4 linked regions of the Homo sapiens genome follow. The protein of the gene in region 1 interacts with the protein of each later gene in a pairwise test. Each region holds a gene or a part of one and is shown on either strand. Other genes may lie near its edges.

Region 1 (7,023 bases):
CTAGGTTATTTTTTAAAAAACAAAAAATTAAAAATTACCCAAATTCCTTATTAGAAAAAGAGACAATTACCTGGTTCTACTTAGGATCTGTGTATGTTCTAAGTCTTTCTCTCCTTTAGAAAAAAAGAGATAATCTGATTCTATTTTGGATCTGTGTACATTCTAAGTCTTTCTCTCATTTAGAGAAAAACATTCTCAAGTCTATAGAAGAGGAAAAAAAATTAAGATTAGGACCAACATTTCAAGCTGCCTTTTGGAAAGAAAATTAAAAACAGAGGTAGATGGTTAATTATTAGTGGCCAAGTTACTCAGGTGACTAATTTTTTCTTGGTACACATTCACCAAAATTTTATACTTGAAGCCAAATAGTAAATAACTTTAGGAGTAGAGAGTAATACCTAGCAGAAGTTATTTTCTTTATGTCAAAGAAAAGTAATAGAAGCAAACCAGGCTTACGACCCCTGTTAAGGAGATGATTGTTTAAAGCACTACAGTTCATGCACTTTTTAAAGCAGGAGAATGAACCTTGCCCCTAAGCTTCTTAGGTGTATCTGAGGCCAGCCACAAGCTCCATCAGGCCTGTTCAGTCCAAGTAGGACTGTAAGGTGCCTCGGCGCCGGACATCGCAGGTCCAGCAATGGAAGCCTCCTCCCAGGGAATTGGCATTACGAATGTTAACTTTAATGGTAGTGATACCTGCATTGAAAGAGAGATGAGGTCAGTTAGATGGACTAACATGACGATTCTCATAGAGAAAGTAGGCCTACAGACTTGGAGGAGTCCTGTGGTTCTAATCCTTAAGGATACCCAACCCAGAATAGTATTTTCTCTTCCAATTTTATTTTCACCAACTATATTTCATCTGCTAATATAAAATCTTCTCCAAAAAGTCAACAGAGAACTCTGAAGTTTTGTTCTATTGACTATTCACAAGTCAATAGACTGAGCAGATGTACCTACCAAATGTTCAAAATGGTCAAGTACTAAAATCTCAAGGCCTTTTAGAATTATACATTAACTACTTTGTCAGACTGTTTCTAATTTTACCATGTTAATTTAGTAGGCAAAGCAAAATTTAGCTGACCTAAAAAGCTGACTTTACATATTCACATATAAGGAGAGTTTATCTGATACAGATTAACTTCACCAGGCCACCATAAGGAAACAATGGAACAGAGCTGGTGTTTTAATATCTGGGTTTGTATGGTTATACAGGTACCAAAGCAAATCCAACAATCAGTTTAATCTGGTACCATCTGTAATGACAAGGCTATGATGTGCATGGCCTATTTAACCAATGGTATTTAGGAAGAATCTGTTGTGTTAGATATAGTGGGGTTTTAAAAAGAAAATCTATTATTCTTCCTCAAGGAGCTAATTATTTTGAGAGGAGGATAGGCTACAAAGTCACTAAAGGGTCCATTGGTATAGCCAGGGAGAGGAAGGTGGCATGAGCCATTCAGAAAGACTTTCCTAGTCGCGCATGGTAGCTCACACCCATAATCCCAATGCTATGGGAGGCATAGGTGGATGGATCACTTGAGGTCAGGAGTTCGAGACCAGCCTGGCCAAGCCCCTCTCTACTAAAAATACAAAATTAGCCAGGCATGGTGGTGTATGCTTGTAATCCCAGCTACTCAGGAGGCTGCGGCAGGAGAATCGCTTGAACCCAGAAAGTGTAGGTTGCAGTGAGCCGAGGTCACGCCACTACACTACAGCCTGGGCGACACAGCTCTGTCTCAAAATACACACACACACCCCTTTATAATAGCTCATATGAAAATCCTTTCCCTTCAACATTTTTCTCAATAATACTAGAATCATTGGTCTAAATTTTGAATATCAGGATAAGTAAACTACTTAAGTAAAACCTGGTCCTGCTCTTCAGTTCAAAACTGAATGATTTACTGACACACTTTCTTGCATTTCGCTACTTTGTTAACTATGCTTATCACACATAAAAGTCACTTCTGCATCCGTACCCTTTTGAGTCCTTTGAAATATGTGATGACAGGACACTTTTAAAGGACCCACAATGATTTCTTATTTGAAGAAGGGCTGAACAAGCTATCTGCTCACCTGCAAAGGGGTGGTTTTCTGCACATGGGCACCAAAACGTTGGCTAAGTCATATAAGATTTATAAACTTATTGTTAAGGGGATGTCTCAGGAGCTCAGGATGCATCTCCAACTTGTTGGGGCTACGTGTGTTGAAAATAAAAATACTGACTTTCTGTGAAATAATAACTTGGTGCCTCTAAAAGGAATCAAAATTGAATTAGACAAACCATTTATCAAACCTAGCATGTCATTTCTTTAGTTCTTCTCATTTAACGTTTTCATGTATGACAACATGTTTCATTTGTTGTACATACCCAGCTTTTCAAACATCTTTTGAATTGGAACTTCATTGGCATCCACCATAACACGTTTTTCATCTAGCATTAAGACATTCATGGAAAGCCATTTGGATGACATCCAGAGTGGATGATCTAAAAACAGCAACAACTGTTAAACCATGTCCGCTATCATTTTTGTTTAAAGCAAGGATTTACAAGTGAAGAATATTAAAGTGACAGCTCAGTTCTTTCAGTAGTTCACTTTCCATGTGAACATTTATTTTAATCTTAAAACAATTTATCTATAAATGGTATGAATCAATCTGTACTCATTATACATTTGAATTTCACCCTGTTTTCTTTTAAAAGTCATATCTTGGCTGGGCATGGTATAATCCTAGCACTTTGGGAGGCTGAGGCAGGAGGATTCCTTGAGCCTAGGAGTTTGAGACTATTGCCCAGAGATGGTGCCTCACTGGGGAACACAGCAAGACATCATCTCTACAAATAAAAAAAAATAACTTGCTGGGCATAGTGGCCTGCATTTGTAGTCCCAGCTACTTAGGAAGCTGGAGTGGAAAGATCACTTGAGCCCAGGAGTCTTGAGGCTGCAGTGAGCTGTGACTGCACAACTGCACTCAAGCCTGGGTGACAAAGCAAGACACTGTCTCAAAAAAAAAAAAAAAGTCATATCTTGCTTTACGTGATGTTGTTTTATTCTGTCTTCTCCTTACTTCATTTTCTATGGATGAAAAAGTTGCAAACACAAGTCCCAGCCTTGTTCTGATGCTCACAGTCCCAAGCACCACTTCACACCTTACTGAGGAAACACATTCTCTAAGCTGCTAACATTTGGGCTGCTCTCTATAGGAGAAAGATCCTTGGTCACTAAAGTAATTATTTTAGTCTAACAGTGTATGAAAGTAAACATACCGTCTGGGATGATTGGTGTTGGAGGAGTAATGATAGTCCATCCTGCTTTCTTGAAAAGATCAATCTGTAAGACCAAAAAAAACCCCCAAAACCGTTAAATCTACATATACTATTATTATTATTAGTCTCTAATAGCCCTTATCAGTAATAATTCTCTTTGAGAAGCTGTCTTCTCAGCTTCCAAAAGAAAGAAATTAAAATTTCTAAACATTTGGGTGATTTTGTCTGAATCCTAATTAAAAATGTACATAAAATCCCCAGATTAAAGTTAAAAAGTAACAGAAATGTTACAGCTTTTAAAGATAGTCTTAACTTTTCTCAGGTTTCAGAGACTTAAAAAACCAAAGATACTGTCCTTAAGAAATTCTCATTTTAAAAATTGAAAAATTTCCTATTTAGTTACAAGAAAACAAAAATGTGACTACATCAAACCCACAGTCCTTCTACTTCTTGCCCATCATTTTGTATCTAGGACCATGGTATAAAGACAGTTGTTAGCTATGCATTCTCAAAGAACCATATTGTCCTTAGTGACCTTTTACAACTTAGCCGTCCCTGTGTTCACATACCCACTTACTATACGAATAAATGATAATAAAATGAAATGAATAAGTAGTCATGGTCATCGGGTTTAAAAATAAAAAACAGAAATGAACAGTGACACAGTATAACAGTGGTTTTTAAAAGTTGTACTGCAGCCTTGCAAGTAACAGAAAATCACTCATCACCTAACTGGAAGTAGGAGGCTATGGACAGAAAGTAGGAGGCTGCAGGTGAAGGGGATAGACCAGCTGCAGTGCAGTGGCTTCACTTTTCCCTACAGAGCAGGGTTGGCCAAAGGGAGGCTACCCCACTGTAGAGGGAATACAACCACTGCCCAGTGGCATTGCCCTGGCCATGCAAGGATGATCTTGTCCAAAATTCGCTGCTGTGGAACCACTGTTGCAAGTTATAACACCATCGTTTGATAAAAATACACACATATGCACAAACTTGAGGCTCTGACAACAGCAAGTGGCCAAAGTCTGATGATCCCATACTAATTATTGTGTCAACTATGTATATTTCTGCATGGTGGACATCTTGTAATAAGCCATAAGGAATCCAATGTTTGATCATAATAATGTTGAGTACTGCTGAATCTGTCATTTAGAACCATTAGGAACCATGGAAGTGCTTAAAATAAAAGTGGCAATTATTTTAGTTACTAGATTCTGTTGCTTTTCCAGAGTCCCAAGAAATCTCTTACCTGGTGACATGGTCGGTCAGGGTTGGAAAGCACAATACCAGGTCCAATGATGTTGAAGGTAGCATCAATATGCATGGGATTGGGATCTTTAAAGGAGATGATATGCACTCTGTAGTCTGGAGCAAGATGCCTACGCATCCATTCAATGCCTAGGTAGTTTGTAACCTGAAAACAAAAGAAAGACATACGATCGATAAATATTTGGTTCTATGTCTAGAAAACTAAAAATATTCAAGGTGAAAAAAATTTAGGATGAAAATATTTTAATTTGGAAGTAAAGAATACAATAATATAGTGTGAAATTTCAGAGGCAGCCTGCGTTCACCTGGCTTCTCTGTGCAAAAATATCTCTTCCAGCTCGAATGAAGTCAGCAGCATCAAAGCATGGCTCAAACTCAGTTGTCACAAATTTTCCCTGAGCAGCCAATTTGTGTCTGTCTTCTACAGAGTGGATGGGATAATCCTAATTGGAACAAGAATGAACACACACAATGCACTGGATCATGAGAAAATTATTCATAAGGCATACAGTACTAAGAAAATTAGTTTAACATCATTTCCCAAAATATTACTACTCAGTTCTAGACTAAAACATGCCTGGGAAAGAAGCGGGTCCATGATAAATAAACCAAAACAACAATAAAACAAGAAACTAGCATTATAGTAATTTCCTGATACAACAGTCCTCCTTTACCCATGATTTCACTTTCCATGGTTTCAGTTACCTTCAGTCAACTGTCGTCCCAAAACATTAAGATATTTTGAGAGAAACAGAGAGACCACATTCACCTAACTTTTAGTAAAGTATATTTATATAATTGTTCCATTTTATTATTCATTATTGTTGTTAGGCTCTTACTGTGCCTAATTTGTAAATTAAACTTTATCATAGGTATGTATATATGTACAGGAAAAAACAAAATATATAGAGTTCAGTATCAGCATCCACTGAGAGTCTGGAACATATCCCCTGAGGATGAAGGGGCACTATGTACTTAGAAAAAAATGGTACACACCAGGTGAGATGGCTCATGCCTGTAATCCCAGCACTTTGGGAGGCCAAGGCAGGTGGATCACCTGAGGTCAGGAGTTCGAGACCAGCCTGGCCAACATGGTGAAACCCCGTTTCTACTAAAAATACAAAAATTCGTCAGGCATGGTGGCATGCACCTGTAATCCCAGCTACCCAGGAGGCTGAGGCAGGAGAATTGCTGGAACCCGGGAGGCAGAGGCTGCAGTGAGCCGAGATCACGCCACTGCACTCCAGTCTGGGTGACAGAGCAAGACTCCATCTCAAAAAAAAAAAAAAAGTGATACAGAGGCAGTAACTGATTCTGAGAATATTCCATGAACCGTACGGAAAGTAAACAGGATGAAGTCATTCTGTTCTTTTAGAAAAGGAATTTGGTCCCGAGCTTAACTCATACCATAAAACGAGATGCCATGTTTCCCCTGCCAAATTTGATTGGGAGTGGCAAAACTAATTCATTATTTATTTCTGTCTTTAAACCCAGAAGCTATTTTGATTTTTAAATTTTTTTCTATAAAAGATCAAATGGTAACTGATTTAATAAGGGACATACATTTCATTTTACTGTGAATTTGAACTGTAGATCAGGTTCTTTTTCTAGAAGAAGAAAGTGAACTTCAGTCTAGTGACTTTTCTGGTTCCACTAATGAACAGTGGTACACCTGTAGGCAAGTTTTTCCCCATCTAATGGAATGATACTACAGTATGATTAGGGTTGTTGTGAAAAACAAACAGGATTGAGGATGTAAATAAAGGGTTTAACCCAGGACCCAGAACAAGGTAAGCACCAAAAAGTGTTAGCCATTATTATTATTATCATAGGATCATTTACTCTTATCATATTCATCATAAAATAATCACTTTTTAAAAATAAGATGATGTTTTCGGTTTCTAAAATGCATAATATATACAAGGTATCAGAGAATCTCTATCTTACTCTTTGTGGATCATTTAGAAAAGTTAGTAATAAGCTAGCCTATAATTAGGGACTCACCTGGTTATAAAGCTCATCAGCCATTGTGGGCTTAGGAGCTGTTGTCCACTTGGCGCCACGGTGGAAGTAGTCTTTGATAATTGACCTGTACGCTCGGTACTCAAAGAAGCGTGAACGCCATGCCATGGGAGCCTCGATAATCTCATTGCCCACAACTATCAGGATGTCTCGAGGCATTGCACTGTATAAACCTGTCAGACCAAAAAATTCCATGACAACTTCAGTAGTGTTAATTTCCAAGACAAAAAAGGTCTATATAGGGCCAGGCACAGTGGCTCATGCCTGTAATCCCACCACTTTGGGAGGCCAAGACGGGCGGATCACTTGATCCTCTTCAAGAGCAGCCTGGCCAACATGGTCAAGCCCCATCTCTACTAAAAGAATACGAAAACAATTAGCCAGGCATGGTGGCACGTGCCTGTAATCCTAGCTACTCGGGAGACTGAGGCAGGAGAATCACTTGAACCAAGAGGCAAAGG
Region 2 (7,169 bases), on another chromosome or scaffold:
AGACTCCTGGGCCACATACCTCATTGTGAAAAGTGTCAGCCTGGGTCTGGGTCAGCCCAGACCCAGAGCTTTCTACAGGCAGAAACTCACTACTCAACATATCCCTGGCTGCACAGACCCCACCCCAACCCCAGCTGCTAAGGGCTTGTTGGGGTGAATTACAGGTAGGGAGACAGACAGGGGAAAGCTGTGGAAAGAGGAAGAGGAAGGGAACCCACAGGAAGGGAGGTCAGGGCACTTGCTTCGGACCCCAGCAGCCCCAGGGCCCAGTGTGGCCTCCTAGGGGGCACAGATTCCCTTCAGGCGCTGGTGCATCCTCTGATCAAGGAGCAGGGCCAGTGTGGGTGTGTCCCCTCGACACACAGGCATGGGCCCCTCTCTCTCTCCAGACCCTCCCTCACAGCTCAGAAAGCGAACATTTCAGAAACAGCCATCCGATAGGCACCTGGGCCTCTTCTGAATGAAGAACCTGTGACGTCACTGAACGGCTTTGCTTGGGTTTTGTCCCAACTCTTTTTTCCCCACACACCCCGTTCCAGTTTTAAATGAGTGGGCTTATTATACAATACATTGGTCCAGGGTTCAATAAAGTGTCAAAATTGTGACTTTGCCCTTCTCAAGGAACAAGCCCCAAAGCTGCTAGTGGGTGATTCCAGGGACTTCCTCCTCAGGACCCCTCAAAAGCTCCAAGATCCCACGCCCGGGCTACCAGTGAGGAAGTGCAAGTGCAAACAGGTCGAACCACCAGCCTCGGTGTCCTGGCGGGACCTAACACCTGGATGTCTCTCAAAATGCTCCAAAAGCTGCCGACATCCGTGCAACAGCCCCCTCCCACCCTAAGGAAAAAGCTGCCTGTACCCCTCGACTACCCCCATTGGCAGGCTTGCCCAAATCAATTAACCTCATTTAGGTACCTTTTAGGCCTTGAACCCAGTACACAGATGGTCCGGAAAAGCCAACCGGAAGAGAGGTGGCAGGCAGGGGGAGGGGGTGTCCCACAGGGATGATTTACAGAGCAGAGGCCGGCGTCAGCCAGGACTGTCCCAACCCCACAAAGAGCCCCTCCTCGCTGGCACCCTGTGGCACTTTAAAATCATAACAACCACAATGATTCGTGGACCCCATATTATGTTCCAGGGGCTCTTTTTTATCTCAATTAATTTTTGCAACAATCCTGTGAATGGGTATGATTATCCCTTCATTTTACAGATGGGAAAACTGAGGCTCAGAGGATTGAAGTCTTCTGCCCAAGTTCTACATCTGTGAGTGGTCAGAACAACAACTGCAAAGCCCAGTGCTCTGTGCCGGCCTCGGCGCATCTCAGACCACGGTGGCCTCAGGACCTTCTTCTGAAATATCTTTTCATCTCCTGACCCTCCCCTGCCGTCTGTTCTGGGCCCTTTGTGCAGCTGACCACGCAAAGAGCAGGAGAGCAGGACCCACAGACTTCCTTCTGGCTGGGCCAGGCCAATTGTCCCCACCTAATCCAGGGCAGGCTCCTTCTCAGTCACTTCCAAGGTCCCCCCTACAACCAGGAATCCCTGCGGTCTCTCACCTGAACCCTCGCGTTCTCTCCCACACCACAAGACTCAGCAGGTCCGCCCCTTGTCCCCCTGTGCTTTTCTAAAAGAAAGGAACTGCTGATAAGCGAGACCTGGGTGGGTGAAAGAACTCGCTCAGGGTCCCACAGAGCTCAGGCAGAGCCCAGACCTCCCGACCCGAGTCCAGGGCTATATCCAGGCCTGGCTCCACAGGACCACAGGGCCCCACATGCAAATAGGAATAATAAGCGCCAAAACACACAACCCATGCACAAAAACACTCAATAACAAATGCTGGCAAACGTGAAGTGCTATCAAAGTATATAATCATAAATCCAACTGTTACACCTTTCAACAAGAATCTGGGAGCAAGAAAAGTGTTCATGTGTGGATGTGCTTATTTCTCAAATACTATACATTCCTCAACTGCTTACTTTCATTAATAAGACCCAAATTACGGAACAAAGGATAAACAGTCAATCTCACAATCACTACCCCTAGACCACCATACCACAACACCCCCAATTAAAAAAACGGCTACAAGCTTTGATTTCCCAAAACACTTCTATCCTGTGGGAAACTGCCGGGTTCTAAAACATCTCCAAATTAATACTGCCAGTTGTCTTAGTTGGTTTCCTGCTTGCTGATCAAAAACAGGGTTGACATCTGCTTTCTCCAGCAACTACTGACCACACAAATTACCTACTCTAGCTCCACAGCACTTAAGTTACTCCCAAAACGTTACTTCTCATCCTGCATTTTCCTGGCCTTGCCCATAATAAAATTACGTGCAGGAGCAGCTGACGGAGCTCACTAGGCCTAGCACCTCCTAGGCTGCAAGAAAGGTGCAGAGGCCTCGCAGGGGAGAGCTGTAATATGAGAACCGGGATTCCAACCTGGGCTCAGCCTGCCCTGCCGCCCGGCAACTGTATGACCTTGGGCACAGAGGTCAACCTCCCTGAGCCTCAGTTTCCTCAACTGCAGCGCTGGAATCCTAACTCCGGGGGAAAGAAAGGCTCTCATCCCAGTCCCCGGCGCAAAGCTGGGGATGATCGCGCAGAGCCAGGACGCACCCGCGCTGGCCGGCTGGAGCTAGTCCCCGCGGTTCTGGGACTGCGCGGCAGCCCCCAGTGGCCCCTACGCCGCTCGAGATCAGCCAAGCCGGGCCCACACCGGGCCTCGCGGCGCGTCAGGAAAGCCAGGCCCGAGGGATGCTCGCGAGGCCCTCCCGGCCTCCGGGGCCTGTTTCCCCGCCTCCCTCCCCCGAACCACTTCCCGTAGAGGGCCCCGGGGACGTAGCCCGGCCGTCGGTCCTCGGGCCCCGGGGCCGAGCCCCCGCCTCGCCACGCGTCCTCAGCGCCCCGGCGCCGCGCCCCGCCCCGCCTAACCCGAGGCTGCGGCCCCTGCTCCACAGCGGGAGGCTGGAGGCGGCGGCTACTCACCGAGCGGCGCCGCGCGTGGCCGCCTTTGTATTGCAAACACCCAGCCCGCCGCCGGCTGTCAGCGCAGCTCGCCTTCGGGGGCGGGGCAGGGGCGGGGGCAGAGGGCAGGGGCGGGGCAAGCGGGGCGGTGCGAGGGGGACTCGGGACGCGCTGGTGGCCCGGCTGCTTTCAGGGCCTGCTGGCCGGCCCTGCCCGCTCACCCCTGGCCGCCTATCTTAGCGTTCCTGGGGGTGGGGCCCCTTAGGCCGCCTTTCTGATTTTCCTTTCCAGAGCCAAACTCGTGTGTTTCTTCAACACTCTGACTTGACCTATGCCGATGACTGGGGGAGTGAGGACGGAGGGGTGCAGAGAAAAGGCAGCCAGGTAAAAGTCCAGGTAAACCACCCAGGGCCTGGCCGCGATCACGTCGGTCCTATGGGTCCCGCTTATCACCAGTGGCGGGATCTGAGCCCGTCCTTGACTTTACTGACCCTCGCCCTTCGTTTCTTCCACCTTAAAGGCGCAATCGCGTTGACCTATCGCCATCTCTTCTTAGCTTCTCCACGCCGGGCCACCCCTGTCCTTCATCCTGATGGTGACAGCCTCCACTCCCGCCTCTGCCAAGCGGTGGTCCAGGTGCGGAACGGTGGCTCTGAACAGGAGGGACAGGCAGCTCCCTGCGCCTCTCCAGCCGGGAGGCAGGCAGCGGATAAACAATGAGCCACATAACGTCTGGTGGTGAAATGATTTCCATCAATGGGAGGGTGTCATATTTGAACTGAAACTCTAAATGACAAGAAACACCTATGACTACAAAGATGGGGAGGAGGCAGGGCTTTCTGGAGAGCAGAAATGGCAGGTGCAAAGGTCCTGGGGCCGGTGCTGTGGGCTGGAGGGAAGGCAGGGGCCAAATATTCAGGTCTTGTAGGCCAAGGCAAGGAGTTTAGGTATTATTTAAATGTTATTCCAAACCAATTCTTTTTGAGACAGGGTCCCACTCTGTCACCCAAGCTACAGTGCAGTGGCACAATCTCGGTTCACTGCAGCCTTCACCTTCTGGCCTCAGGCAATCCTCCTGCCTCAGCCTCTCAAGTAGCTGGGACCACAGGTGCATGCCACCACGCCCAGCTAATTTTTCAAACTATTTGTAGAGACCAGGTCTCCCTATGTTGCCCAGGCTGGTCTCAAACTGCTGGGCTCAAGCAGTCTTCCCACCTTGGCTTCCCAAAGTGCTGAGATTACAGGTGTGAACCACCACGCCTGGTCCAAAAAGAATTTTAAACCTGGGAATTATATGATCTAATTTACTTCTTTAAAAAGTCACCCCTCCACTCCATGGAAAATGGACTGCAGGAGTAGAAGCCAGCAGACAGGTGGCACTGCAGGAAACCGGGGGACATGATGGTGGCTCAGATTACAGGGGCTACTCAGCAAGAAGCGGAAGGACTTCAGAGAGATTTGGAGGCAAAACCCACAGGCTTACTGATGAATGGAACCGGTGGAGGTGTGTGATGCGATACTCAAAGGCAAGTCTCAGTGTGGAGATGGAACCGCTGCTCTGCTGAGATGCAGAGGGCCAGGGAGGAGGCCAGCTTAGAAACAGCATCGAATGCGGCAGCTTAGTGAATTGGATAAGCCAGCAAGCTTGAGATAGATGTTTGGGGACAGCTGCTTGGAGAGCTTTGTCCAGGGGCGCGGCTCCCGTCCATCTGGTCAAGTGTGGACACGCTCCCGCTGGGCTTGGGGCAGCTCCTATCTAGGCAGCCTGTCCCATGCTGACATTGCAGACGTGGGAGCTACACAAAGAGAATCTTGCAGTTTGTAGGTGAGCTACCTCCACAGGGGTTTTCTCAGAGACCAGAGTTTCAAGTGCATCACGGCTGCCCAAAACTGCTGAGGTTGCAAGGCCCCAGAAGGAAGCCCTCCTGCACCCTCCCCTCCCACCTCCAGGGAGGAGCTGGCCTGGGAAGAAGTCTACTCTATGTGGAAAGGCTTTCCAGGAAGCCAGTCCAACTTCAGGCCACTTAAGTTTATTTTTTGTGTAAAATAAGTCCATTATTCAAATGTGGAGATGGGAGGTCTGAAAATATAGGACAATTCAACTCAAAGCCCTCATTCTGAAAATGATGAGCTGGGGGGCCCAGCACGGCTAGGGTCAGCTCTGATGAGCAGGGTCTGGCTGGATTCAGAGCAAATTAGGTCCCGCTGCTGCCCAGCCTACCACCTCGGGGAAGGCCAAGGGTTGGGGGGAGCCTTTTGTATAAACAAGCAATGAGAAGAAAACACTCACTAGATCACAGTGCACTCCCAGGCGATAAACGAAACCGGACTTTCCAAAGCCCTGGCGCTTTTGATCAGGCACTGGCTGGAGTCCCCCTGGGAGGGCCCTTGGCTGTGCTATCAGCAACCAGGCCTGACTGAGCAGTGACTCAGCCAGGAGAGCTGAGGCGATCCCCCTGGCCAATCCCAGGACCTAGCTGCACTCGGAAGAGGAGAAGGAACTCCAGGGATGAGTAATCTTGCTCTAGCTGACTGGAGGAGGAAGGAGGGGCTGAGTAATGCCTTAGCAAAGCCAGCACAAGCATCCTGATTCTAGAGGCTCAGTTTCACAATCCAGGAAATGGGCTGCAGGTGCACATGACACAGATCTGCTTTGAGGATGAAAAAGGCATCATGGGAAGCTGCTGTCACAGTTGTGGGGTTGGAAGATTTTTCAATTCTAAAACCCCATAAGTTGAGGAGTGGCCATTCCCAGAAGGATCTGTTCACTGCTGAGCCCAGCTGGTGACAGTAGCTGTTGTATCCCGAGAACTCTGAAGTTGTCCAGATCAACCACCTACACAGGCCCAGAATACCTGGGGCAAGGTAGGCGGGAAGAATGAGCATCCCTCTTCACGGGTGCCCTGCGAGCTACTGTAGGAAGGAGAAACACTGGCTGATCCCCCAGGACTCTGAGCATGGTTAGCTCTGTAACTGCCCGGGCAGAAAGGATCCCAAAGAGAGGACAATGAATTCTTCCCCTAGAGGTGCAGACTTTTATCCCTGGCACCAGTGCCTGGGGCTCCGGGGAAGGGAGGGCATCTCCTCGGGGTCTAAGGCCACTCCTTGGTTGGGGGCCCCTCACGAGGTGACTTTGTCCTGCGCACTCTCTTAAGAACCAGGTGGGAACCAGGGGCCACCTGGTGCCGCTTCACTACCTTGGTGGCAGGGAACAGAGCAGCCTGGGAATCCACCCAAGGTGGAATGGGGCCCCCTGGGTGCTGTGGCTGGCTGAGCAGGGAAGTTTCATGGGGAAGAGGCAGGTGTAAAAGGTTCTGGGTTCCGCAGGGAGAGGACAGTGATCCTCGGAGAGCAAACAGCTGGAACCAAAGCACAGAAGGTTTTGACGGTCACCCGGGCTATCCAGAGGCCCACTTCACAGTTAGGGCAGGGCCTGCAGATTAGAGTTGAGGCACAGGAAGTGGCAGAGTGATAAAGGCTGACAGCTGGACACACAGGAGCATCTTGGAGGCCCTAGGCTGAGCACTGGGGGCTACAAAGGGGAGCAGACCAGACACAGTGTCTGTCCTCAGGGAGTGCACAGTCTGGGTTGTGATCGCGTAAAAACTGTCACAGTGCTTCAGGCCGCTGTGAACTGAAGGGCCGTGCACTGATGCAGGATTTGACCTGCCCTGTCCCCAAGCAAGAGGATTCACCTGACCTTGGTGGCCTAAGCAGGCACCGACCTAGGCAAATCTAGGCCAGGTGTCAAGGAGCAGAATGAACCACGGGCCAGCCAGCAGCACATGCACAGCAGTCAGGCACGCACAGGTGCTTGAAAGAAGGCCGTGGCTGGCCGCTGGTGGGCGGGGGAGCTCGGGAGCTCACAGCAAGCCCCATGCCTGTCTCCCACTGGATGAAGCCAGAGGGGGTCTGGAACGCCCTTTCTCCTCTGGTCAGATTGGGAACAATTCATAATGAGCGGGGCTAAGACACAGAACAGCAGAGAGGCAGGAAAGAAGAAAGAGACCAAGGTGCGAGGAGCGGACAGGGAAAGAGACCTCAACATGACCAGGGATGGGAGGAGAGAACTCCATTACTTAGAAACAGTGGCTGCTATGCTGGGAAGTGTGGACTGTTACAGTGGGCTCTAATTCCAGGAGGAACAAAAAGACCCCGCATATCACCATGAGTCAGTCCTCTGAGTCGCCATGACCCATGACCTTGC
Region 3 (7,112 bases), on another chromosome or scaffold:
TGAGTGCCTCTGAAACAGAGAGCAGGTTCTGGGGCAGTGGACCTCTCTCCAGTACTGGCTAAATCTACCCAGGCCTGGGAACCCCAAGCACAGACATCCACAACTTCCCAGAGATGGCAACTGTGTCCACTTCCTCTTTCACAATGGAGGATTGTCCCAGTCTCATGGCCCTTTCTCCCTACAGCTACCTCACTCCTCAGACAACATAGCAGATAAGCAGATGCCCTCCTTTCCTGCAGAGTAGAGTCTGGATTCTCTCCATGAGACAGTCTGACAGGGCAGGCAATGTCCATCCCTGTCTCCCAGCCCATCTGGACAGCCCCTGCCACTTCCTCTGCTACCAGGACTCACAGGTGAGTGAGTGCAGCCTGCTCTACATGAGTGTATTTCTACATGGTGTCTCCTCACCCTCTCAGCCCATGTTACCTGCTCCTATTGATTTACATTTGGGAGCATTTTCTTCTCTCCCATCCCAGCATGAGACAAGATTTGGAACAGCTTTTCCATGAGCATTTGAGTAGACCCTTACTGGGGTCATATTGATTCCCCCAGACGTCATGCCTATAGCATGCCCCTGGTGCTGGTAATGACTCCATGATTCTAGGGCTGGGCACATGACCTCAGCTCATCATCGTCGTACTCCACCTCCACCAGCCACTGGCCAAGGTTGTCACACAGCATCATAAATTCTTGAGGGCAGAGGATCTGTTTTTTAAAATTGTTGCTATTACCAAAACACTACCTAATAACGATAATATCTAACTACTATCTATAATGATAATGGTAATACTGAATATATAACTTTTGGAGGACATGGTCAGATAGTATTAAGTAATTTGCATATATTAGTTCATTTAATTCTCATCACAAACTTATGAAGATGGTATGATTATTCTCTCCGTTGTACACTTGGGGAAACTCAGGAAACAGGGAAGTTAATAGTGACCCCAGGATCACACAGCTGGGACCCATTAGAGCTGGATTTCAGACCAGGAAGTTTTGATTCTTAAGCCCACAGTCTTACATCTTTAGTCTTCTGGAGCATCCACTGGCTCCCAGTTTCTCATGTGTCCCAAAGTCGTCCCTGGTTATCTGCACCTGCTGTGATGAGTCAGGGTGAAATATGGCAGATAAAGGAGAATTTTGGCTCATGGACTCCCAGGTTCCTGGTCCTCTCAAACATTCAGATTTTATCTATGCTTCCCCAAGTCACCTAAATTTAAATTTCAATTCTCCACGTGATTTCCACAAAAATTGTAAGCATCTGTGTACTTAGTTGATCTTTACTGAAGGATTGAAGTTCACAGGAAGGCACTTGCTGCTCTAAGCACAGATTCTGCCATCTTCCTGACACTATACTATGCATTTTTGAGTCATATACGCCCAATTCTTATTTTTGGAGACATAATACTTTATGACTCACACCTCTCAAAGTAATGTAGTAATGTGGATAGGTAAAAATAGAGCAATAGGAAAAGATATACCACAATATTGTGGTATATTTTTACCTATCCACATTACTTTGTTTGGGTGTGTCTCTGTGCTGTACCACAGGAAATTTCCCCTACATAATCACCCAGCTTACTAACTTACTATTATACTTATTTATGTATAGTCAGCTAGTCAACCTATTAAGTTTTTTTAAAAAATTTCAGCACTGATTATGTTTTCATTTCCAAAGTCTGTGTTTTGGTATTTTTTCAAGATGGTTGTTGTTACCTCATGCCCGCCTATTTCTGTTTCATATTATTACATGCCTGATGTTGGTTTATGAATTTACTTCTCTTTTGTTTTCCTTATAAGATCATTAAGTATACTAACTTTAAAGAACTTTACACATTTTGTTTTTTCATATTTGCTCAGGTGTGAAGTTCTTTTGATTGCTATTTGTTTTTGAGTTATTGTTTTTCTTGAATTTGTTAGCTGCAGTGCTGTTCCTCAAATCTTTGGTGATTCTTGCTTGCACTTCCGTCTTCCCAGGAATAATTCCCCATGTGATCATGGGTTGTCAGGGCCTCGTGGAGCATGGCACCTGCCCCAGCCTCACTATGAGGGCTGCTCCTAATTGAGGCTATAGCTTCTTCTCTGCTTTCTTCCTGAGGGATGTCTCTCCCTTCCTGCAAGAGGTATCATAGTACAACCATTAAAAGTGAAGGCTGTGGAGTGTGGCAGCCTATGTTCCAGTTCTAAAAGCCGGGTGATCTTGAGCAAATTCATTACTCTCCATGTGCCTCGGGTTTTCTCACCTGTGAAAGGAGGTTAATGGTTGAGCTTACCTCATGGGGTCAGAGCAATGATTTAATGACATTACCAATAGAAAAATGCTTGGCACCATATCTGGAGCACAGGAAACTCTCAATAAATGATAGCTGTTATAATTCCTTCATGTCATATAGAAGCCAATTGCTTGTATTCAAGTGTAATTAGACATTGATTCATATATTCTTTTCATTTTGTGTTTTCACTACTGTGGGTGTGGAGAAGGAGGGGAAGATTTCACCCTGTGTACATCTGCCACATTAAAACAGGACTTTCAATTAAAACATGATAACATTTACAATTTGATTTGACAATTATTCATGACAGATTAAGAACCTAAAACCCACATGTGAGATGAAGGATTCTGGACAGGTCTTTCTTAGTCATAGATGCTGGAAGAGAAATCATTTCTTTTAACAAGGTGGCTTTTCTAAGGCACAACGGTGGCAGAGAACCAGTGGACTCTTCCTGTACACAGAAAATAATTATAGCCATGTTTTTTTGCTTATAATTAATTATGAGTCAAGCATTCAGTATGGCTTATATTATTCCTACCATAGCTCTACAAGGTGCATATTCTAACATTTATTTACATACAATCAAACCAAGGCTCAGAGAAGTAGTGTCTTTTTGAAAATCACACAGCTGGAAATTGTAAGAGGAGGAATTAATCTATGGTTGAACAAGGAGCGGGATTTAGAGAATCCAGAGGGAGAAACTGATTTCAGGGTGGCAGCGAGAGTCCAAATACACTATATAAGCTGGGTCTCAGGAGGCCTGGGTTGCTGGGAGAAAGCCACTGGTGGGCAACTCAGCATGCAGGAGGGATCCATTCAAAAGCAACATTTGAGTTCCCGCACTTCACCTGGCACCGTGAGTATCAATAATGACCTACTGGGTTTCAGGCATGATATGCTCATTACCTCTTTAATCGTCACTAAAACACTGCACAAAAAGACTTACTATTCCCAGTTTAGGAGATTGAAACTGAGCATAGGAGGGCCCAGCGACTTCCCCAACTCCTTGGCACACACTCTTGGCAGGAGCATGGATTTTTCCTCTTTCCTCATTTCCCATCCGAACTCAGTGATGAATGAAATAGGTGCTCTGTGTGTAGAAGAAAGGGTATTGAAATTGATGCGACGGCCCCAGGAACCTGCCCACCATAATCTTCCCTCATGATAACCCTATCCCCTTTCCATAACCCACAATCCCCACCTCACTCCACAAAGCAGTTGCTTATTACCTCAAACCCAGTTTCTCTCCTGGAAGGAGTCAAGAAATAATTCCTTCTGCTGGGTGCAGGCACATGAAAGTGCTAAGGTCCACAAGAGACTGAATTTGGGCTAAGTGTTGCCAATTATAGCAATTTGGAATAGAAAATCATTTCAGGAGAAGATCTGGTTCCTCTCCAGTGTTGAGCAGGTCCTGTGAACTCTTCTCCTACGTCCAGCGGAGTGGCATTTGGTTGAGGCTGGTGCAGAACAAGACCACAAGCCAACCACATCCTAGGGTCTTGAAATAAAGACTTTAGAAAACAATACCTAACAACAGATCTTTCTTGACTTAAAAGCCTCAAATGGCAAATCACCAAGAAGACCTGAAAATGGGTTTGGGGACACGAGGAGGGAGCACAGGTCCCAGGCAGGCAGGAAGCATTATTTCTGCTAACCCTGTCTGATTATCCTGAAAATGGAGCACGATTAACTCCTTGCTTTGTAGCTGCCTACTGTGCCTGATTTGTAAGTCACAATCTAGAAGCAGGTTACTGTTGCATTCCATCATAGCCACTTCCTCTTGAATTGAGGGAGGCAGGGCTTGTCTTCTGTCTTCAGAGCAGGGCCTGACATCTCCCCAGAACAGACGTTTGAACAGAGCAGGCTTCTGAGGTCTCCAAAATGCCTGTCCCAGCCTCCTGGCCCCATCCTCCTGGTCCTTTCCTGCTTCTGACTCTACTGCTGGGACTTACAGGTGAGCATTGCATTGGGCTAGAACCCTTTCTCCCTGCTTCCTGGACCTAGCCTTGCCCCTGGACTTGCAGCAATTTCAGATAAGCACAAGCACTGCCAAGGAAGGTCAAGGACTGGACATTGTCCAAGAGCAGAAGATCAGGGAGCTGAGCACTTTCTCTGTGGATCTGCAGCTGGCTACCAGAGGCATCAAACCTTGTGAGGCTTCTGCCACCATCACAATTAGTTACATTTTTATAATATTTTATTTGACAAACACAGAAGAATCATTATTAAATCCTTACCTGTCTTGAGTCCTCCTACCCATTTTTGTGTGCCCTCCTCCTCTTTAAGAAGTTCCACATTTCATGCTTACAGCGTCCTATATTCCTTTCTTAGGGCTTCCACAACAAAGCACCACAGACTCAGTAACTAAAACAATAGACATTTACTTTCTTTCTTTCAGTTCTGGAGGCTGAATTGCAAAATCAAGATGCCAGCAGGGTTAGTTTCTACTGAGGTCTTTCTCCTTGGCTTGTAGAAGGCCATCTCCTCCATGTGTCTTGACACATGGTCTTCCTCTGTGTGTGTCTGTATTCTCATTTTCTCTTATGAGAACATCAGCCATATTGGATTAAGGCTCCCCGCCAGTGACCTCATTTAACTAAATTGCTTCACCCATTTATGCCTAGTGCTCCGTTATTGGATCACTAAGCTTGCGGGAGTTATTTATATCCTACTGCTCAAGGGCATCGCCAAGGTCTGATTTTTCAAATTAAAAAAAAATTGCAACCTCGGGCATAAATGGGTTAAAGACCTTGTCTCCAAATATGGTCAAATTCTAAGGCGCTGGGGATTGGGGCTTCAACCCATTCGTTTTGGGGGCACATTCAGCCCATAACAGGCACCACCATCTCCCTTGGTCATCTTGACTTTCCTCTGGAGAATTTATTTTCCCTTCCCCCAGGCAGACAGGATTGGGAGGTCTTTCCTGGTGCCACCTGAGAGAGCCCTGTTCACAGCTCCCAGACAGGCTGCCTGTCTTCACCCCTTTTTCAGACCATGCAGCTGACCCCCGGTCACAGGGCTGGGCACAATAGCCTCTCAGTTGCCCACTGGGCCCTGCTGTGATGTCATCTCACAGGTCTTAGAGGGCAAGGTCTCACTTTTCAAATTATTTTTTTTACACATACACTGTACCCAAATGACAGCAGTAATAGTTCAGCAATTGCTCTCTTCCTGTAAGGCAGATGCACTTCTTAGCATTTTGTGTGTATTAAGTCAACTAATCCTCACAGCATCCCTGTGTGGAAGCTATAACTCTTGTGCTCTATTTGCAAATGGGGAGTGAGGCAGAGGCAGGAACCTGTTCATTGTCCCCTACTTCAGTCCATGGAGCAGTTGGGATCAAGTCCAGGTTGACCAGTTCCAGAGTTTATCACCCTTTTAACCATGTTATGCTATGTGTAGAAATATTAGAAAATGCAGGCAAGCAAACATTAGATTAATAATCACCCATCACACCAGTCAGAAACAATCAGAGGTAAAACACTAGTGTATGTATGTTTTCCCAAAATGTTAAAAATGTGTTGGATGGTTTCTATGTGCCAAATATTTTACTGAGATTTTTAAATTTGTCATAATTGTAATTAATGCACAAAACAACCTTATATACTAACATGATAAGCCAAACTTTTATATATATTTGTGAATGTGTATATATACACATTATATACACATATATATGCACATGTGCCTATGCATGTACATGTACATGCACAGATGAGATTTCATTTTTAATCATTGGTTCTCTTTCTATTTTCAGTGAAATTTTTAACAAAATAAATATTTTATTTTATTTTTATTTGACAAAAGTATGTATACTTATGTACAACATATTAAGAAATATGCATACATTGTGGAATGACTAATTTGAACTAATAAACATATGCATTACCTTACATATTTATCATTTTTTATTGTGAGAACTCGTAAACTCTGCTCTCTCAGCAGTTTTCAAGAATACAATTCATATTATTAAGTATAAACACCACATTGTACAATAGATATCTTGAACTTATTTCTCTTATTTAAATTGAAATTTTGTATCCTTTGACTAATATCTCCCCAACTACACCCCCTCTCTAGCCCCCGATAAACACCATTCTACTTTCTACTTCTATGAGCTCAACTTTTTAGATTCTTCATACGTGAAATCATACAGTGTTTGTCTTTCCGTGCCTGGCTTATTTCACTTAGCAGAATGTCCTCCAGGTTCATCCATGTTGTTGCAAATGACAGGGTTTCCCTTTTTGTAAGGCTGATTAGAATTTCATTGTGCATATATGCTACATTTTCTTTCTCCATTTATCTGCTGATAGACACCTAGGTTGATTCCATATCTTGGCTTTTGTAAATAATGCTGCAATGGACATGGGAGTGCAGATATATGTGTGACATGCTGATGTCATTTCCTTTGGATATATGCCAGTAGTGAGATTACCAGATCAGATAAGAGTTATATTTTTAATTTCTTGAGGAACCTGCATACTGTTTTCACTAATGGCTCTACTAATTTATATTCCCACCAACTGTCTGCAAGGGTTCCCTTTTCTCCACATCTTCTCCAATACTAAATTTCCTCTTTTTGATAATAGCCATTCTTAAAGGTGTGAGATGATAGCCCACTGCGGTTTTAATTTGCATTTATCTCATGAATAGTAAGGTTGGATTTTTTTTTATACGCTGACTTGCCATCTTAATGTCTTCTTCTGAGAAATGTCTATTCGGATCTTTGGCCCATATTTTAATAGGGTTGTTTTCTTATGGTTGAGTTGTTTGACTTCCTTATATATTTTGTATACTGACTCCTTATCAGATGTATGGTTTGCAAATGTTTTCTTC
Region 4 (7,874 bases), on another chromosome or scaffold:
TGATATATATATAGATATATATGTGTACATACATATGTACACATGCATATACTGCATACACCAGACACGCATATACTGCGTACACCAGACACGCATATTCTGCGTATGCCGGACACGCGTATACTGCGTACGCCGCACACGCGTATACTGTATACACTAGACATATATGTAAATGCGTTGAGTAAGAACCAGAGGAAAAAAAACCAAACTGATTACATGGGTTGTTACCTCAAGAGAAAACACTAGAATGGCAGAATGGGTGGATTCTCCAGGAGTTTTTCACATGATCTTTGTTGTTTGACTATTTTTAGCATGGGAATAAAATCATATATTACTTGTATAATTAATTAATTTTTTTTTCTTTAGAGACAGGATCTCACTCTGTCACCCAGGCTGGAGTGCAGTGGTGTGATCATAGCTCACTGTAACCTCAAACTCCTGGGCTCAAGTGATCCTCCCACCCTGGCCTCCCAAGTAGCTGGGACTACAGGTATGTGCCACTATACCGGACTAACTTCTTACTTTTTATAGAGAAAAGGTGTCACTATGTTGCCCAGGCTGTTCTCCGACTCTTGGCCTAAAGTGATCCTCCCACCTCTGCCTCTCAAAGTGCTGTGATTACAGGCGTGAGCCACCATGTCCACCCCATGCTTGTATAATTAATTTTTGATAATTTTGATGTATACCAGAATTAAGAACCACTGTTCTATCAGACTTAATATTCTAAGCACCAAAGCTGTTTCACATATTTTTTACAATCTCGCAGGTCATAGTGCAGTGCCTTCTATTAATGGGAGTTTCTGTTTTTAATGAATAAATAGGTGAAAGAAATGCCTCCACTTATACCACCTCTACTGCCATCAGCAGGCCTCATACCAGTACTTCTTCACCACCTGACGGGTTCTAAACAACTCTTGGACTTGATGTGCCATGTCCTTGTCCCAAGCCAACACCATTACACCTGTGGTTTCCTTGTCCAGCCGGTGGCACAGATGCAAGGGCTCTGCCTTGTGGCCATGAAGCATCTTTGCCAGGATAGGTAGTACATCAGTGATGCAGAGCTGGACCCCAGGGCCACCTAAGAAGGAAAAAGCCAAAGGTTTGAGCGGCCAGGAAAAGATCTCGCCAAAGAACTCTCCTTGGGAGAAAAGCCCTTAATGGATAAACTGTCAATATTTTCTAGAGCCTTACTACTGAAGTGTGGTCCAGAGACTAGCAACAATGGCATGTCTAGGGAGCTTATTAGAAGTGAATCTCAGGCTCTCAACCTAGACTACTCAGTCAGAATCTGCATTTTACAAGCTGCCCAAGTGATTCAGAAGCATATTAAAGTTTGAGAAACACCATTCTAGAGCATGTGGCTTCCTCTCAGACATACTTTGAAAAACCATGAGGCCTTCGAGAAGCATTAAATAAGAGTGATTAGGAGGATAGACTTCGGGGTTAGACATTCCTGGGGTTCTACTCTACTCTTCTTACTAGCCATTTTTTTGACCTTGGACACATTACTTCTCTTTCCAACTTTGCTTTCTCGTTATAAAATGTAAATATCTGGAAAACAACTTCATTGGGGAATGGAAAGGCAAAAAACTGTTGCGAAAATAAAGAGAGAAAAAAATTATACAAACACTTGGTGATGTGATTTAATTCCTTGTCTTTGTGAACAACTATCTCCGTATCTCCCCAAAAAGCATTACCTTCTTCTAGCTAAAATGGGCCTTTTCCCTCTTTCACAAATGCATTTTTTAAATCAATCTTTCCTGATTCACTTCAGCTGTCCCTGACAACTACATGCAACATCTGTTGAAAGACATTTGAAGGTCCACTAAATTCCAGTCACTCTGGGGTTGTATGTTACATATACTCCAACATACATACACACACACACACACACACACACACACACCCCCTTTTTTCTTATGTATCATTTTCTCATTCCCAGTTCTGATGGAAGATAACCTTTAGTCTAGAACCACACAGCCTTTGTATATCTCTACAGCGATCCCTGTAGTCTGCACACAGCGTATTCTACGAATTGCTTACTGTCAGATGTTTAGAAAGGGAGGACTGTCTTATTTATTTATTTCTGTGTTCTCGGTGGTTCCTTATATTGGACGGTAGTTTACAAAAGTTTAATTAATTTGAATGCAAGGCTTTAGAGTGCACCACAAGTAACGTCTCAGTTTTCCTCGGTTGTAGCAGAAAGCAGCTGCAGGTTCCTCCACCTTTCCCGCGTGGTCCTTACCATGCACAGGGAGACCGTAGGGCTTATTGATGACCACAAGGTTCTTGTCCTGGTGGAGAATTCCTCGGGTCAGTGCCTTAGCAAGCACGTTGGGGTGGACTCGCTGCAGCTGCCGTGTGAACCGCACTATTTCTTGCACTCTCCGCTGAACAGCGTTTGTGGACACCTAGGGAGAAAGAAGGAGCCGTGGGGAATGCCTGGTGCGGAAGCCGTGGAGAAGACCTTCCATAAAGGTCTGGGTGAGAATCTGAGTAGGGAATGACTATCTTTGCATCAGACCCGCGCCGCCTTCGACTAATTTGAGAGCAGAGATACCCATCTGTCTAACCTGCGTACCGACGCAGTGGTTAGGACTGAGCCTGACAGTAGCCAAAGATCCAGCTCACGGGAAAACACCGTACCCTTACTGACCCCTCCCCTCCGCCTTCTCCCCATTCTCCCACCTTGCGTCCGGGCTATTGACTCACACGCTTTCACTCAGAGGACCCTCCTACCTACTCCCCGTCTGGGAAACCAATGAGCGCACTGCCTCTAGGGAGTTCTGGTCCCTTTGGACTCACCGGCTCCTTCTTTGTGTCTTGTTCCCGTTTCTGGGCTCGGAGCTTCTCCGCTAATCTCTGGGCATTTATGGCCGTAGAGGCAGCGGCAGCGGCACAAAATGGCTTTGAGACGAGAGTGAAGAGACTCCCGCAACCTTGGCCGTTTCCCCGGATCCAGGGGCCCGACGCGCTCCACCTGGGCGCCGCCATCTTACAAGGAAGGGCGGGGCGAGCCAAGACCACGTGGAGAAGGGCGACTACAATGAGGCGGGAGTGGGTGGGCCCTGCAGGTCACGTGGTGCGGGGTGGGGCCTGGGCGAGTCACGTGGGGACGGTGCGCGCTCAGTGCGGCTGCGCCGGCCGGTAGCTGCAGCTGGAGCAGTGGCGTTTGGAGGAGACTCGGTGAGTGTGTAGGGAAGCCGGGCTGGGGCTGGGAAATGCCGGTGCCTCAACGGTTTAACGTTTTCTGCGTCCCCGGGATTTCCGTTCAAGAAGAGCACTGGTCTGAGAAACGTTTCTCCTTTTGGTACACGATCCCACTCAAAAACTCCTCCCCGCCCCCGCGCCCCCTTAGGAGCGATGTCCCATAAACGCTCGCCCCAGAGCCCTCCTAGGCACCGACGCCGTCCCTCTTAGCCACTGAATCTCCGGTGATCCGCCAGTCCCCTGCGGGACGCGTCGGGGACCCTCTTGATCGGATGCCCGGATCTCTGTAGTCTCTCCACCCTTCATCTTCCAACTCCCAGCCTCTTTGTTTCGCGTTGTAACCTGTACCCTTCTCCTAAGGATGACGGCCCCTTCCCTTATCCAGGGCCCCCAGCACCTATTTCCTACTTAGGAAGCACTGTGAGTGTTTTTTCTGCCCTTCCTCAAGAATTCATTTCTTGGGGGTCTCCTCCCTACCTTCCCTACTCCTCCTAAAGAAAAAGCTGAAAGAACGGAGCACAGACCTTCACTTTTCCTGTTTCCTTTATTTTTCCTCTCCATAGTTTGCAACCACACCATACCTCCTCTCACGAGATGCGATGTTGGGATTCCCTTGCCCGAACTGCAGGCGACTCCCTCTGATTTCACTCAGGGGTGGCTGGGAAGATAAACATCTGTTTGGGATGGTAGTGTTAAAAATAACTTGGGATATACCTGCCATTTGTTAAGAGGAAAGCTTATGCTGAGTTCAGAAAGAATGTCCTGAAAACTAATGGATCTGTGACGATAGAAGGAACAATTTTTTAAGACTGCTTGGAATGAAGGCTGCCTGAGGAGTTATTAGAGAATAGGTAGTTGAATTAGATTTGGGTTCTACACCTCCTAAAGGGTTTGGCAGAAGGGAGCCGTACCAACAAGAAACAAAGTTGATCAGGTGGAGCTACTCATAGAAGACTCAAGTTGAAGAGTTTGAACTAGAGGTGATACGTAGTGAGGAGTCTTTGAAGCTTTTCGAGTAGGGCAGAGAGACTCCTTGAAAGTGGAATTCTGGAAATGAATCTGGCAGTTGAATGCAGGACAGATGGGGAAGGAAAGGGTTTGATAGTGGGGAAGGAAAGGGTTTGATAGTAGGAAAACTAGTTACAATCTAGGTGGTCAGTGATGAGGTCTGGTCTTTTCCCCCTACACTGTAACTCCTTTGAGTTTGAATTAATTGAGTTATGCAGGTCAAGGCGTACTCTTGGCAGCTGCTGTTGATCTGTGAGTCCCTGGAAGAATTTTTTTTTTTAATCCACTCACCTGGCACATAGTAAACTCGATATCTGTTAGATGGCTGAAGTGCATCATAAATGTATGCTAGGTGTGTCTGAACATTTTGAATTGTCTTATTTCTGTCAATGTTTGGCCTGAAGAATGAAGGTAGAGGAAGATGTATTTGTAAAGTGGGAAAGAAGCAAGGCTTGTGTACGTTTCTCTTATAAGGCAGGTGTAAATGCAGATCCAGATACAAATGCAAAGATTTCCAAGGGAGATTGGGAAACATCTGTTTCTCCTGTTCCCCACCCACCCCCTGCAAATTTACCAGTAAGACAGAGGTCTATAAAAGTTGAGAAATTCCACCCTAAAAGAATTATTACCTTCCATGCTCCAGACCTAGGTTCTAATTTCACTTGAACATCACATATTACTTAGATACTTGAAGCTCAATTTTCCAAGGACCCTGAAGTTTTGACATCGGGACTTAAATTCATATCATTACATTAATTAAAAACTTGTTTTGGGTACAGGACTTTTATGGTTTTGTGTCGGGGATGGGAGAGGCTGTTTCTACCCTAACCTTATGGCATTCAAGAAACTACACCTGTTCTTGCAGAGTTGGCCTTCTGTGGCGGGAAACAAAATGAAGAACCAACTCAAATGTCATTGCTAGTGACACAGAGCTTATGCTCTAGGGTTTCAGGTTAACTCAAAGCACACACTTAGTGACTTAAGAATAAAAATATTGGTCCCTTTTTTCTGGAGAAGGAACTTTTAGGTTTGTCTTGTTGAAACTTTGTAGAGAAATTTAAAGAATTCAAAGTTTTTGTTTGGTATGACAGTGCAGCTTTAGCCAGTATGGGTACATAAGTTATGACATCCTTAATGTTTCTCCGGTGAGTCTAGGCACTTGGTGATTTAAAGTAGAGTTGTTCTCAGTATAAAGAATTTATGTGGCCGGGCGCGGTGGCCCACGCCTGTAATCCCAGCACTTTGGGAGGCTGAGGCGGGCAGATCACGAGGTCAGGAGATCGAGACCATCCTGGCTAACATGGTGAAACCCCCGTCTCTACTAAAAATACAAAAAAAAAATTAGCCAGGCGCGGTGGCAGGCGCCTGTAATCCCAGCTACTCGGGAGGCTGAGGCGGGAGAATGGCGTGAACCCGGGAGGCGGAGCTTGCAGTGAGCCGAGATCGCATCACTGCACTCCAGTCTGGGCAACACAGCAAGACTCCATCTCAAAAAAAAAAAAAAGAATTTATGCAAATGTCATGTCTTTTTTTTTTTTTTTTTTCCAATTTTCAAAGAGCAATAATCACCCCTCAGATAAACCTCATTGGCTGCAATACTGCCACTGCAAAAAACTCTTTTGTTTCTGTTTTTTTTTTTTGTTTTTTTTTTGTTTTTTTTTTTTTACCTCTATATTGCCTCCTCCCTGTTCCTCATTCAGCTGGTCCTTTTTTAGGCAGTTCACTTTTCCACTTCTGCGCCAATGTCACAGTCCATTTGTTGGGAACTCCTCTTGTCTAAATGTTTTCTTAGAACAAGGAAGGAAATTCTATTAGTGATTTCTTCATTCTTGCAGACTACGGCTCTGTTCAAACATGACTTATTTACATTGATTTTGATATATCATAATATGTGCCCCTAAAGTAACCATATAAAGAAGAACTTGATAGTTTCTTTTTAAAGATATTTCCTAGTCTATTCAGGAACAAAAAGGCTGCATTAGTATTTCGCAAATATAAACAAACAAGGACTAACTAATAAAGGAACTTGCGTTTATCACAAATTTAAGGTTAATTAGTGGTATAAAGTTAAGTTACGCCTCCTCAAACTGTGATTTGCTAGTTGCAGATTAACCAGCGATTCCATTTCCTTGAAGAGCAGGAAGTACTTGGACATTGTTTTATGGTTTTAGAGAGATTAAAGGAGGCAATTAGCAGGAACTCTTGGGAGGTGCCCTGGAAAGTACAGTCATTGGGAGCCAGGAGATGTGGGACTAGTTCCAGTTCAGCCGCTGCGTACTTGAACAAATAATTTGGGCTTCAGTTTTTTGTCATTTGAAAGATTTTTGCAACTCTGTTTCTAGTCTATGAAGATTTTCCACTGATACTGAAATACTTCTCTTTCAGCCCGAATTAGTGGGATTTATTTCAGATTTATCTTGAATACATTTAGCATTGATACTAAGAAACTGGATTCTGCTCTTGTCCCCAGAATTTAACTTTTTGCCACTGAGCTAATGTTTATGTTTGGAGGTTACTTCATTGAGTGGTGTTGGAATATACTTTTAAGATTTCTGGCCAGGCGCGGTGGCTTACGCCTGTAACCCTAGCACTTTGGGAGGCCGAGGTGGGCGGATCACGAGATCAGGAGATGGAGAGCATCCTGGCTAACACGGTGAAACCCTGTCTCTACTAAAAATACAAAAATTAGCTGGGCGTGGTGGCAGGCACCTGTAGTCCCAGCTACTCGGGAGGCTGAGGCAGGAGAGTGGCGTGAACCCAGGAGGCAGAGCTTGCAGTGAGCCAAGATCGCGCCACTGCATTCCAGCCTGGGTGAAAGTATGAGACTCCGTCTCAAAAAAAAAAAAAAAAAAAATGTCCTAAATGGGGGTGGGGTGCATGGCTCACACCTTAATCCCAGCACTTTGGGAGGCCTAGCGGGGAGGATCTTTTGAGCCTAGGAGTTTGAGATCGCCTGGGCAACATAGCAAGACCTCGTCTCTACAGAAAATCACAAAATTAGCTGGGCATGGTGACGCACCTATGGTCCTAACTAACCCTTGAGGCTGAGGTGGGAGGATCATTTGAGCCCGGGAATTCAAGGCTGCAGCTGCAGTGAACCATGATTGCAGTACTGCACTCCAGCCTGGGTGACAGAGACAGACCCATCTCAAAAAAGAAAAAGTAATTTGTGTAATACAGTTTAAAAGTCAAATAGTAATAAAAGATTTGGAATTAAAAAACAGTTTCTCAGGCCAGGTCCAGTGGCTCATACCTGTAATCCCAGCACTTTGGGAGGCTGAGGCAGGTGGATTGCCTGAGGTCAGGAGTTCAAGACCAGCCTGGCCAACATGGTGAAACCCAATCTCTACTAAAAATACTAAAATTAGCTGAGCATGGTGGTGTGTGCCTGTAATCCCAGCTACTTGGGAGGCTGAGGTAGGAGAATCGCTGGAACTGGAGAGATGGAGGTTGCGGTGAGTCGAGGTCGCACCATTGCACTCCAGCCTAGGTGACAGAGCGAGACTCTGTCACCAAAAAAAAACCCAACAAAACAAAAACCGTTTCTCTGCCCTCCCTACCTCAAAGTCCCATTCTTTAGAGGCAACCACTCAGTTGTTTTCCTCTTTTCCTCTGTCTTTACAGTAAGTGGTCAACACCATCAGTATTCTTGAAAC

The links.
Region 2: the proteins of GATM (region 1) and LPIN1 interact in binary tests that used the Homo sapiens proteins (3 or more experiments, as listed by UniProt).
Region 3: the proteins of GATM (region 1) and SIRPG interact in binary tests that used the Homo sapiens proteins (3 or more experiments, as listed by UniProt).
Region 4: the proteins of GATM (region 1) and RPUSD4 interact in binary tests that used the Homo sapiens proteins (3 or more experiments, as listed by UniProt).

What each region holds. Positions count from the first base shown.
Region 1 is NC_000015.10:45,361,526-45,368,548, forward strand, and holds part of GATM (glycine amidinotransferase, mitochondrial isoform 1 precursor), read right to left. Parts: intron 6,736-7,023; coding exon 6,545-6,735; intron 4,984-6,544; coding exon 4,846-4,983; intron 4,686-4,845; coding exon 4,521-4,685; intron 3,336-4,520; coding exon 3,272-3,335; intron 2,492-3,271; coding exon 2,375-2,491; intron 697-2,374; coding exon 584-696; 3' UTR 1-583. UniProt on the Homo sapiens protein: Transamidinase that catalyzes the transfer of the amidino group of L-arginine onto the amino moiety of acceptor metabolites such as glycine, beta-alanine, gamma-aminobutyric acid (GABA) and taurine yielding the corresponding guanidine derivatives.
Region 2 is NC_000002.12:11,742,486-11,749,654, reverse strand, and holds the start of LPIN1 (phosphatidate phosphatase LPIN1), read right to left. Parts: upstream 3,024-7,169; 5' UTR 2,984-3,023; intron 1,123-2,983; exon of another isoform or gene 915-1,122; intron 1-914. UniProt on the Homo sapiens protein: Acts as a magnesium-dependent phosphatidate phosphatase enzyme which catalyzes the conversion of phosphatidic acid to diacylglycerol during triglyceride, phosphatidylcholine and phosphatidylethanolamine biosynthesis and therefore controls the metabolism of fatty acids at different levels.
Region 3 is NC_000020.11:1,654,760-1,661,871, reverse strand, and holds the start of SIRPG (signal-regulatory protein gamma isoform 1 precursor), read left to right. Parts: upstream 1-4,092; 5' UTR 4,093-4,157; coding exon 4,158-4,230; intron 4,231-7,112. UniProt on the Homo sapiens protein: Probable immunoglobulin-like cell surface receptor. On binding with CD47, mediates cell-cell adhesion. Engagement on T-cells by CD47 on antigen-presenting cells results in enhanced antigen-specific T-cell proliferation and costimulates T-cell activation.
Region 4 is NC_000011.10:126,208,645-126,216,518, forward strand, and holds the start of RPUSD4 (pseudouridylate synthase RPUSD4, mitochondrial), read right to left. Parts: upstream 3,007-7,874; 5' UTR 2,995-3,006; coding exon 2,806-2,994; intron 2,412-2,805; coding exon 2,246-2,411; intron 1,079-2,245; coding exon 877-1,078; exon of another isoform or gene 850-876; intron 1-849. UniProt on the Homo sapiens protein: Catalyzes uridine to pseudouridine isomerization (pseudouridylation) of different mitochondrial RNA substrates. Acts on position 1397 in 16S mitochondrial ribosomal RNA (16S mt-rRNA).